Linked DNA regions of Homo sapiens. The protein of the gene in region 3 binds, or shares a complex with, the protein of the main gene of each other region. Each region holds a gene or a part of one and is shown on either strand. Other genes may lie near its edges. The genes, in order: RBL1, CDC6 and CCNA2. A codon is read from its position in the direction of its gene.

Region 1 (3,654 bases), on a different chromosome or scaffold from region 3:
GGAAATAGGGTCTCACTCTGTCACCTAGACTGAAGTGCAGTGGTGCAATCACGGCTCACTGCAACCACAACCTCCCAGATTCAAACGATCCTCCAACCTCAACCTCCCAAGTAGCTGGGACCACAGGCTCACACCACTACGTCTGGCTGATTTTTGTATTTTTTGTAGAGACAGGGTTTCACCATGTTGCCCAGGCTGGTCTCCAACCTTCTGAGCTCAAGCAATCTGCCTGCCTTGGCCTTCCAAAGTGATGGGTTTACAGGTGTGGGCCACCGTGCCTGGCCTTGATTTCTTAAAATAAATGTATTTAAAGCCAACAAGTCTTAGTGATAATAAACATTCAATGCCACTAAAGCAGAGAGAACTTGAATTTGGAGGTCTTACTTTGATATACTGTTATGCTTAACAAATTTCAACAAATCAACAAATATGACAGCTTGTGATAAGCCAGGCACCATTAGTACTAGATATTTACCTATTATCAGTAAAACTTGAAAGGTCCAGGAGGCATTCTCCTTTTAATATCTGTGAACAAAAAATTATTTTGGGACACCATATAATTAAGCATATTAATACACACACAAACGTGAAATTTATCTAAATTTCCATATTGTTATAACACACACACAAAACAGAATTATTAAATATTTCTTTCAGACTAGGATAAACTATTTAGCATGCAAATAACTTTTTTTTTTAACTTTTTTTTTTTTTTGAGACAGGGTTTTGTTCTGTCACCAGGGCTGCAGTGCAGTGGTACAATCATGGCTCACTGCAGCCTCAGCGTGCCAAGTAGCTGGGACTACAGTTGTGCACCACCATGCCCAACTAATTTTTGTATTGTTTGTAGAGACAAGGTTTTGCCATGTTGCTCAGGTTCGTCTGGAACTCTTGGGCTCAAGCAATCCACCTGCCTTGGCCTCCCAAAGTGTTGGGATTACAGGCGTGAGCCACCGCGCCCAGTCCCTGGGATCCTTTAAAAAAAGTTTACTTTGCTAGAGATGTTTAGCATACAGACAATGGGCCATAATATAGATATCTGAGGAACACAAGACTGAATACAAAAATTTGTATAAAAGAAGAAGAAACCAGTAAGGGAAGAATTTATGCTTAAAGAAAAATCTCATAATATTTGAAAAGTGGGATCCATAATCCAAACCCCTCCTTTTACCAAAGAGAAATCTTGAGGCTTAACTACATTTAATGGCTCGACGTTGGGGAAATAAGAAATTGAAACCCAAAGGAACAAGCCAATTCATAAATGTAGAAATAGCTAAGTTAATTACCAAGGAGACAATGTCCAGAATGCACACAGATAGCCTACAAGTGGCTACAAAACTATCATGGATTTTCTGCTCGATTTACATGGAATTAAAACTGTGGTTGTTATACATCATCCTACTTTTAGTCAACAGTCAGCAGTTATTCAAATTGTGGCAGTAAATTAGTCAGCTTATTCTGACCTCCTGTTTTTCCTAATTATTTGTCAGCCCTACTCTGATGTTCTATTCTTTACAATTCTTTATCAGTACCTCCTACGGTTGCCTCTGACAGTACATTTACCCAACAGTACATATAGTTGGTCACATTTTTCAACAGCTCTGTTTCTCACATCACACAAGATCATAAGGAAATTCTGAATCACAGTAGAGGCTAAAGCCTGGGAATCCTGACCCTAAGTTCTATAATGCTGAGAACTTGCTTAAAACATTTTTTTCTTTTCACATTACTGGTGATCTGTAAACATCTCAGTCATCTAATTATAAGTACAGTACCTTCCTGTCAAAGAGTTTTGAAATATATGGCTTAAAGTAGTGCTCCTTTATTCCTTTTGCTTCTACGAGAAGTCCATCATGCAGTTCACACAGTACAGCAATGATGCAGGGTGGCTCTTCAGAAGCCGTAAAGTCAGCAGTATGAAAATCAGATGGTAAACCTAGTTTGACAGTGTAGGAAGGGCAGAGGGAAAAAAAAATAGTCAACTTTTAAAAATCTTTTTCCAAAAACTGATAATCAGTTTTCAAAAATAAATAAAAGGTCTTACCTTTAAATGATGGATTTAGCAAGTCTTGTCTATTTGGGCACATAATCGCATTGGCAAAAATCAGATCCAAGCAGCATAGAAGTAAATGATAAGAGTTTACTAAGTCATCCCCAATCATCCGAAAATTACCTTTATAAGGGAAAAAAAAAAAAAAAAGACACAAAAACCAGAAACCTCTCATGTCAAATAGCACCAAGTTCCCAGAGTAGAAATGTAAGACCACTGAAAGTGTCATCTTACCCTTAGTATAAACAAAAAGTGTCCAACAGAAATTAAACAGATCCTTAACACTGCAAGGAATCCTCCTAAAAAGGGAAAAAAATTACTTTTTGTCTGACTAGCTCGCTAAATATCATGTAAACTGAAATAGTAAATGTAAATATCAAATAGATCAAATTACACATGAAATTCCATTCATGAAGAAAAGTAATCTATTATTTATGAAATGGACTTAAGTAAGCCTTTCCAACCTGCATAAAATAATCAGAACATAGGGCTGGGTGTGGTGGCTCATGCCTGTAATCCCAGCACTCTGGGAGGCCGAGGTGGGTAGATCACCTGAGGTTAGGAGTTCGAGACCACCTTGGCCAACACGGTGAGACCTGGTCTCTACTAAAAATACAAAAAATGAGCCAGACGGGGTGGTGCACACCTGTGATCCCAGCTACTCAGGAGGCTAAGGTAGGAGAATTGCTTGAACCTGGGAGACAGAGGTTGCAGTGAGCCGAGATCAGGACACTGCACTCCAGCCTGGGCAACAGAATGAGACTCCTCAAAAAAAAAAAAAAAAAAAAAAAAACAACAACAGAAAGAAAAATAAGTAAAAGTATTATCCTGAATTTCCAAATATGGATAATTGTACATGGATTTAAAAAGAAAATAATTAAGTTCTTTGCAGGAATACTTTTCATAAAAAACAGACTTTCAAAAAAGTATATTCTCTTAGTTTGTATCATAATCTTTATGTCAATTATATAAGGATTAAGGGCTCACCTCTGCTTCCGGCTTCGTGGTAACTTTGGTGGTTCTTCATATGGATTTTGAAATATATCTAAAAAAATTGGCTCATATTTTTTGAATATTACAGTAGACACCTCAAAATTTCTCTCTAGCCTTTCTATACGTTCACGAAATTCTTGTGGTAGATTTGACATGTCCATCCATTTCTTCATTTTACTAAAAAATTGTATTAAACTAAAAAAAAAAAGGAGGAGAAAAAAGGCACCTTTAAAATTCATTTAAATAATGGATTGAAAGGAAATATTCTATTCATGACTAAGACTCTTTATTAAAAAGCCAGATTTCCCAGGCAACATAGTTAAGACCCCATCTCTACAAAAATTTAAAAAATTAGCTGGGTGTGGTGGCATGTGCCTGTAGCCCCAGGTACTTGGGAGGCTGAGGTGGGAGAATTGCTTGAGCCCAGGATGTCGAGACTGCAGTTAGCCTCAATCATGTACTCCAGCCCGGGTGACAAAGCAAGACACTGTCTTACATGAACAAAGAACAAACACCATCCCTCAAGCCTAAATTTAATTAAAAAAAAAAAGTCCTCACTATGAAATCACTTTCGTTCCCAGGATCACCAGGGGAATACAGGTTATTAATTA
Region 2 (3,654 bases), on a different chromosome or scaffold from region 3:
CTGTGGCTTACATTTTTCTCTAGCTTGAAGCCTAGGTAGAATTCTATCTGTGAGATCCAGGGTATTAGCAATACCTAAGGAGGAGATCAACAACATTGATCATTGGTCAAATTATCCTAAAGGGAAAACTAAATCTTCTGAAAGCTAAATAAATCTCCAGTTATAGAATCTAGCATTCTAATTGTTGCTTGCCACTTGTCTCCTACCCCATCCCAATAGATAAGATGTATCTATTAGGTAAGATGTACATAGTCATTTAACTTTCTTATTTTGACACGGCAGAAAGCTGGTTTAAGATAAAATAGCTGATAAATAAGCTGAATATATATTCTTAAAAAATACTTTAGAACCACCATGTAACATTAACAATTGAGCACTAACCAATCAGCACCAAGTGAGAATTGCTTAGCCATGGCCATTCAAATAGCGTGTACAATACATCCTGGCCTTTGCTGTCCAGTTGATCCATCTCGTCCAATACCAACACACTATAAAAAGAGAAACAGTTAGTATCCATATTCACCTTCTTAACCCTCTAATGTTTGATATAGGCTGACTTCAGGTCACTTTCCTAAAGCTGAGACCAGTTTAAAGATCATAATCTAACCTATCTCTAGTTACTGCTACAAGGATACCCCACATCATCTATAAGTAATCCAATTTAAAATTAGGTGTATCTTCCTTCTCTTCTTTCCCTTTAAGTTTATGTAACTATCCTTCAGAGAGAAAATATACAAAATGTACTTTTTATGGGCAACAGACCTTGCAGATTTTCACAGAGCAACATGAAGCAGAACAATACTTACATCATGGGGCCCTTCTCTGCAGTCATATGTTTTTCCAATTTCCTCATCATGTCCTTCCCAGCTGGCCTGGATACCTCTTCCTGACAAATCTCCTGAGCAATAGCTGGGAATACAGCCTGGGCAGTCCTCAAGGACATGCAATTCAGCATGATAGTTTTAAAGCCTTTCAGTTCCTTCTGGAAAAAAAAATGCAAATATGGGAGTTATTTTGGCCTCAGAAAATAAAGATCTGATAGAGCCTAAAATGTCTTTGAAGAGCTAACAGCACGTAAGGAAGCTCTACTTTCATTTGGAAAGATTTAAACAATGAAATTACAAATGTTTTATTTTGAAGAAACCCTCAATCTTCTAAACTTCTACTCTTTCTTTTCTTTCTTTCTTTTTTTTTTCTTTGAGACGGAGTCTCACTCTGTTGCCCAGGCTGAAATGCAATGCCACAATCTCAACTCATTGCAACCTCTGCCTCCCGGGTTGAAGTGATTCTCCTGCCTCAGCCTCCCAAGTAGCTGGGATTACAAGGATGCACCACCACACCCAGCTAATTTTTATATTTTTAGTAGAGATGGGGTTTCGCCACATTGGCCAGGCTGGTCTTGAACTCCTGACCTCAGGTGATCCACCTGCCTCAGCCTCCCAAAGTGTTGGAATTACAGGTGTGAGCCACCGCACCAGGCCTACTCTTTCTTAACTCTTTTTTTTTTTGAGACGGAGTCTTGCTCTGTCGCCCATGCTGGAGTGCAGTGGCGCGATCTCGGCTCACTGCAAGCTCCACCTGTGGGTTCACGCCATTCTCCTGCCTCAGCCTCCCGAGTAGCTGGAACTACAGGCACTCGCCACCACGCCTGGCTAATTTTTTTTGTATTTTTAGTAGAGACGGGGTTTCACTGTGTTAGTCAGGATGGTCTCAATCTCCTAACCTCATGATCCGCCCGCCTCGGCCTCCCAAAGTGCTGGGATTATAGGCGTGAGCCACCATGCCCAGCCTTCTTTTTCTTTTGAGACAGAGTCTCACTCTGTCACCCAGGCTGGAGTACAGTAGCGCGATCTCAGCTCACTGCAACCTCTGCTTCCCGAGTTCAAGTGATCCTCCTGCCTCAGCCTCCCGAGTAGCTGGGATTATAGGCACCTGCCACCATGCCCGGCTAATTTTTTTTTGTATTATTAGTAGAGACAGGGTTTCACCATGTTGACCAGGGTGGTCTCAAACTCCTGACCTTAGGTGATCCACCCACCTCAGCCTCCCAAAGTGCTGGGATTACAGGTGTGAGCCACCGTGCCTAGCCCTCTTTCTTAACTAAGTGCCAGCCAGGCACAGTGGCTTACACCTGTAATCCCAGCACTTTGGGAGGCTGAAGCAGGCAGATTACTTGAGCTCAGGAGTTCAGGACAAGTCTGGGCAACATGGTGAAACCCTGTCTCTACAAAAAATTAGCTGGGTGTAGTGGTGAGTGCCAGTATTCCCAGCTATCCAGGAGGCCGAGGTGGGAGGATCACCTGAGCCCAAGAGGTCAAGGCTGCAGTGAGCTGAGATCACAACACTGCACTCCAGCCTGGACAACAGAGACCCTGTTTCAAAAACAAAACAGGCCAGGTGCGGTGGCTCACACCTGTAATCCCAACACTTTGGGAGGCCAACAAGGGCGGACCATGAGGTGAGGAGATCGAGACCATCCTGGCTAACACAGTGACACCCCGTCTCTACTAAAAATACAAAAAACATTAGCTGGGCATGGTGGCGGGCGCCTGTAGTCCCAGCTACTCGGGAGGCTGAGGCAGGAGAATGGCGTGAACCTGGGAGGCAGAGCTTGCAGTGAGCCGAGATCGCGCCACTGCACTACAGCCTAGGCGACAGAGCGAGACTCCGTCTCAAAAAACAAAACAAAACAAAACAAAACAAACAAACAAACAAAAACACCCAAGTATCATTTTACCAAGAGTATCATAATTCAGACTCTCAATGTACCTTGAGGTCTTGCAGAATCCGGCTTAAGCAGGCAGTTTTTCCAGTTCCAGGAGCACCAGAAAGGTAAAGGCTTCCAGCTTTTTTCCCACAGATGTGTTCCCTCAAGAAATTCCTGATGACATCCATCTCCCTTTCCCTGGCAGGCAGCCGATCTGGGACAGCTGTGTTCAGGACCAGCTTTGCTTGCTGGTAGCAAGTGCCTGTGCCAGACATAAAAGGTCAATTAGACACAACAGAAGGTGAATGAGAAGACCCAGTGGGTGGTTTCATTTGGAGTCATCAGCCTTGGTTACAATGGCTGCACTAACAGTTGCCATGTAAGAACAAACCTTCTTGCTTGAATAGTCTCACACATGCAGATTCTTTCTTCAGTGGACATCTCTGCTCAGAATTTGTTGTGATCTCTTGACTTTTTCTAACTGAAGAAAGTATTTTGTTTTGGTGAACTTTGGCTAGTTCTCTTTTGCTAGGAGACTTAATTGTCAGCTGATTGTCAAATACCAATCTTCGTCCCTTAAGTGTATGTGAGTGAGGGGGACCATTCTCTTTCTTGCCTTGCTTTGGTGGAGAACAAGGAGGTAAATGGGGAGTGTTGCATAGGTTGTCATCGCCTGAAACACAATAAAATAAAAATGTAGTCACTCATAGCATTGGATAGTAAAAGGATGTGCAAGACCTCTGCCTCTTCCAGAAAGAGGTGAATTTCTACCTTAGTCAGAACCACCAAAATAAAATGCCTTCTCACTTAGCAGCAAATATTGGTCACCAGATGGCACCACTGATCTTACTACAGTAGTCCCTTCATCCACCGTTCTAGTTACCCTCAGTCTGAAAATACTAAATGGAAAATTCCAGAAATAAACAATTGACAAGTTTTAAATTGCA
Region 3 (2,624 bases):
CAGATGAGTTCTAGAGTGCTCTAAGAAGCTGATTTAAAGAAAAGATTAAGCCTCCACCTAGAGTTTTATTTTTATTTTTTGGGATGGAGTCTTGCTCTGTCACCCAGACTGGAGTGCAGTGGCACTGCAACCTCCACCTCCATGGGTTCAAGCGATTCTCATGCCTCAGCCTCGAGTAGCTGGGCCTACAAGCACATGCCACCACGCCTGGCTAATTTTTCTATTATTTTTAATAGAGCTGGGGTTTCACCATGTTGGCCAGACTGGACTCGAGTTCCTGACCTCAGGTAATCCACCTGCCTCAGCCTACCAAAATGTGGGTATTAAAAGTGTGAGCCACCACGCCCAGCCCCAGAAATAAGAGTTTAGAACGTCTGATAGAAATAAATTCATGTAGAAATAAATTTTGCAAGAGATTGCTTAACTTTTTTTTTTTTTTTTAAATTAATAAAAAAACAAAGATGCTCCCATAATACTCTCAGATAGTGAAGAAGAAGAAATGATCATTTTGGAACCAGACAAGAATCCAAAGAAAATAAGGTAACAAATTTCTGGTTTATTTCAAATGTATACATATACTCAACACTTATAGAGGTTTGCTCTCTGGTTTTACTCTCATCTTGCCACATGACTATAAACAAAAAGACATCCCTTTTTCATTAGAGATCCATCTGTTCTGTGATTTTTTTACCTTGTGATTTATAAAAATTAGGACCTAAATCTATAATATAAACTTCTTGGATGCCAGTCTTACTCATAGCTGACACATTTTAGATCCTACTGGAAAACTAAGAAATGCCTCTTATTTCAATAATCCAAAACTTAACATACTCTTAGTAAATTCTTACTTTGCTTTATTCACAGAACACAGACCACCAGTGCAAAACAAGAAAAAGCACCAAGTAAAAAGCCAGTGAAAAGAAGAAAAAAGAAGAGAGCTGCCAATTAAAGCTAACAGTTGTATATCTGTATATATAACTATTAAAAGGGATATTTATTCCATTCTGAGAACCCTGGGTATTTTTTATTCACAAATCCATTATAAAATCTAGCAGGATTTTAAAAATAGTTTTTTGTTTTTAATGTGCTTTAAAATAATAAACCTTCTGGAGCATTTCTCGTCTGTTAATTTGCATATAAGCTTCCCACCCTCTTCCACTCCCAACCTCTGTTGAGTTTACCTCGCAAAACCTAAACAAACAGGTTTTACAAAGAGCGAAAAAGTCTGGGGAATCTCTACTGTATCTATCTCTGAATACTGTATTCAGATATGCTTAGATTAGATTATGCCCAAGTCAGCAAATTGATCCAGTTGCTTAGGAAAATGAATGTCAGAATTTGAGGGTCTGTTTTCCTAAACCTACTTTAATTTTAGAGGAAGGCTTTTCACTTCCCATTATATAGTAAACCAAGTAAACTTCTTTACTAAGCAAAATCCTGAAGAAGTTAAATTTGACTTGCAAAGTTTTCCAAATCAATTTATTATCCTGACAGCTGGCATCATTAATACTTTAACAAAACCACTTAAAATTAGCCAAATATCTAAGACAGATACATATACAAAAGATATACAAATTAAAACCATTTAAAAAGTAATAGATACCATAATTTGTACTTGGCCACAACTTCTGTATTCAGAAATGATTGTAAAATTAAAACCTAAGTTAAAAACTGTACACCATATACTTTGAGTGATTTACATCTTAGAAAACAAAGGCAGTCTTTCATTGTTACAGATTTAGTGTCTCTGGTGGGTTGAGGAGAGAAACACCATGATACCTGTAAGTAGGGAAAAAAAAAGCATTTTTAGTAAACACTCACTGGGTAAAGGAGATCATGGAATAATGTTTGTACTCATGTATTGGGAACTAAAAAATGCTATTTCTGTCTGACCGACTTGATGGTTTTAGAAACACTGTCTGGTCCCTGAAACACACATGCATGCCCCCTTCCTTCTCTCTTCTCCCCCAGACCCAGGGCAGAAAGCATGAACTACAACCTTCTTCAAACACATAACCAATTTAGAGAACAGCTTCTCAAGGAGGCTATGGCAGATTCATGAATAAGGTTAAAATGTCAAAGATCTCTGAACCATAATCTAGAAAAGTAAGCTTCAATATCCAAGTTAATTCTTACTTTGAATTTTTGTACTTTTCTCTTATTGACTGTTGTGCATGCTGTGGTGCTTTGAGGTAGGTCTGGTGAAGGTCCATGAGACAAGGCTTAAGACTTTCCAGGGTATATCCAGTCTTTCGTATTAATGATTCAGGCTACAGAGAAGGGAATAGAGAACCCCTGAGTTTTGCTTTTAGTAACACACCAAACACAGTAAATAGTTGGCATTAAGCTTATGTTAAATTCCAGTACTAATCTTTAACTTTTCCAACTACTAGTTTTCTCAGGCCATTATTCCATCCCTCGATCCATTTTCTACTACTTTCCCTGCCAGCAACAGGTCAGATGCTTTTAAAAAAGCTCACCTTTCAATCCAAGTTACAACTAAGCTTACTACCTAACAAACACTGTTCAACAGGTAACATGCCTTAAACAGTATATAATCATCCCTCAGTGTACATGAGGGATTGGTTCCAGGACCCTTCCCAAATATACCCAAATCTGTACAT

Evidence for each region.
Region 1: the proteins of CCNA2 (region 3) and RBL1 are in contact, whole or in part, in a crystal structure (PDB 1H28), measured with the Homo sapiens proteins. Residues at the interface, in NP_001228.2 of Homo sapiens: Met210, Ile213, Leu214, Asp216, Trp217, Glu220, Glu224, Arg250, Gly251, Lys252, Leu253, Gln254, Tyr280, Ile281, Thr282, Asp283, Thr285, Tyr286; in NP_002886.2 of Homo sapiens: Gly654, Ser655, Ala656, Lys657, Arg658, Arg659, Leu660, Phe661, Gly662, Glu663.
Region 2: the proteins of CCNA2 (region 3) and CDC6 are in contact, whole or in part, in a crystal structure (PDB 2CCH), measured with the Homo sapiens proteins. Residues at the interface, in NP_001228.2 of Homo sapiens: Met210, Ile213, Leu214, Trp217, Glu220, Val221, Glu224, Tyr225, Arg250, Leu253, Gln254, Glu277, Tyr280, Ile281, Thr282, Asp283, Thr285; in NP_001245.1 of Homo sapiens: His89 (codon at 3,294), Thr90 (codon at 3,291), Leu91 (codon at 3,288), Lys92 (codon at 3,285), Gly93 (codon at 3,282), Arg94 (codon at 3,279), Arg95 (codon at 3,276), Leu96 (codon at 3,273), Val97 (codon at 3,270), Phe98 (codon at 3,267), Asp99 (codon at 3,264), Asn100 (codon at 3,261).

What each region holds. Positions count from the first base shown.
Region 1 is NC_000020.11:37,064,949-37,068,602, forward strand, and holds part of RBL1 (retinoblastoma-like protein 1), read right to left. Parts: intron 3,239-3,654; coding exon 3,038-3,238; intron 2,350-3,037; coding exon 2,285-2,349; intron 2,174-2,284; coding exon 2,045-2,173; intron 1,937-2,044; coding exon 1,776-1,936; intron 526-1,775; coding exon 476-525; intron 1-475. UniProt on the Homo sapiens protein: Key regulator of entry into cell division. Directly involved in heterochromatin formation by maintaining overall chromatin structure and, in particular, that of constitutive heterochromatin by stabilizing histone methylation.
Region 2 is NC_000017.11:40,290,784-40,294,437, reverse strand, and holds part of CDC6 (cell division control protein 6 homolog), read right to left. Parts: intron 3,381-3,654; coding exon 3,099-3,380; intron 2,970-3,098; coding exon 2,770-2,969; intron 983-2,769; coding exon 807-982; intron 489-806; coding exon 382-488; intron 75-381; coding exon 1-74. UniProt on the Homo sapiens protein: Involved in the initiation of DNA replication. Also participates in checkpoint controls that ensure DNA replication is completed before mitosis is initiated.
Region 3 is NC_000004.12:121,815,908-121,818,531, forward strand, and holds the end of CCNA2 (cyclin-A2), read right to left. Parts: intron 2,271-2,624; coding exon 2,137-2,270; intron 1,780-2,136; coding exon 1,731-1,779; 3' UTR 950-1,730; coding exon of another isoform or gene 865-949; 3' UTR 541-864; downstream 1-540. Other genes in the region: EXOSC9 (exosome complex component RRP45), read left to right, coding at 237-287, 462-540, 865-949. UniProt on the Homo sapiens protein: Cyclin which controls both the G1/S and the G2/M transition phases of the cell cycle. Functions through the formation of specific serine/threonine protein kinase holoenzyme complexes with the cyclin-dependent protein kinases CDK1 or CDK2.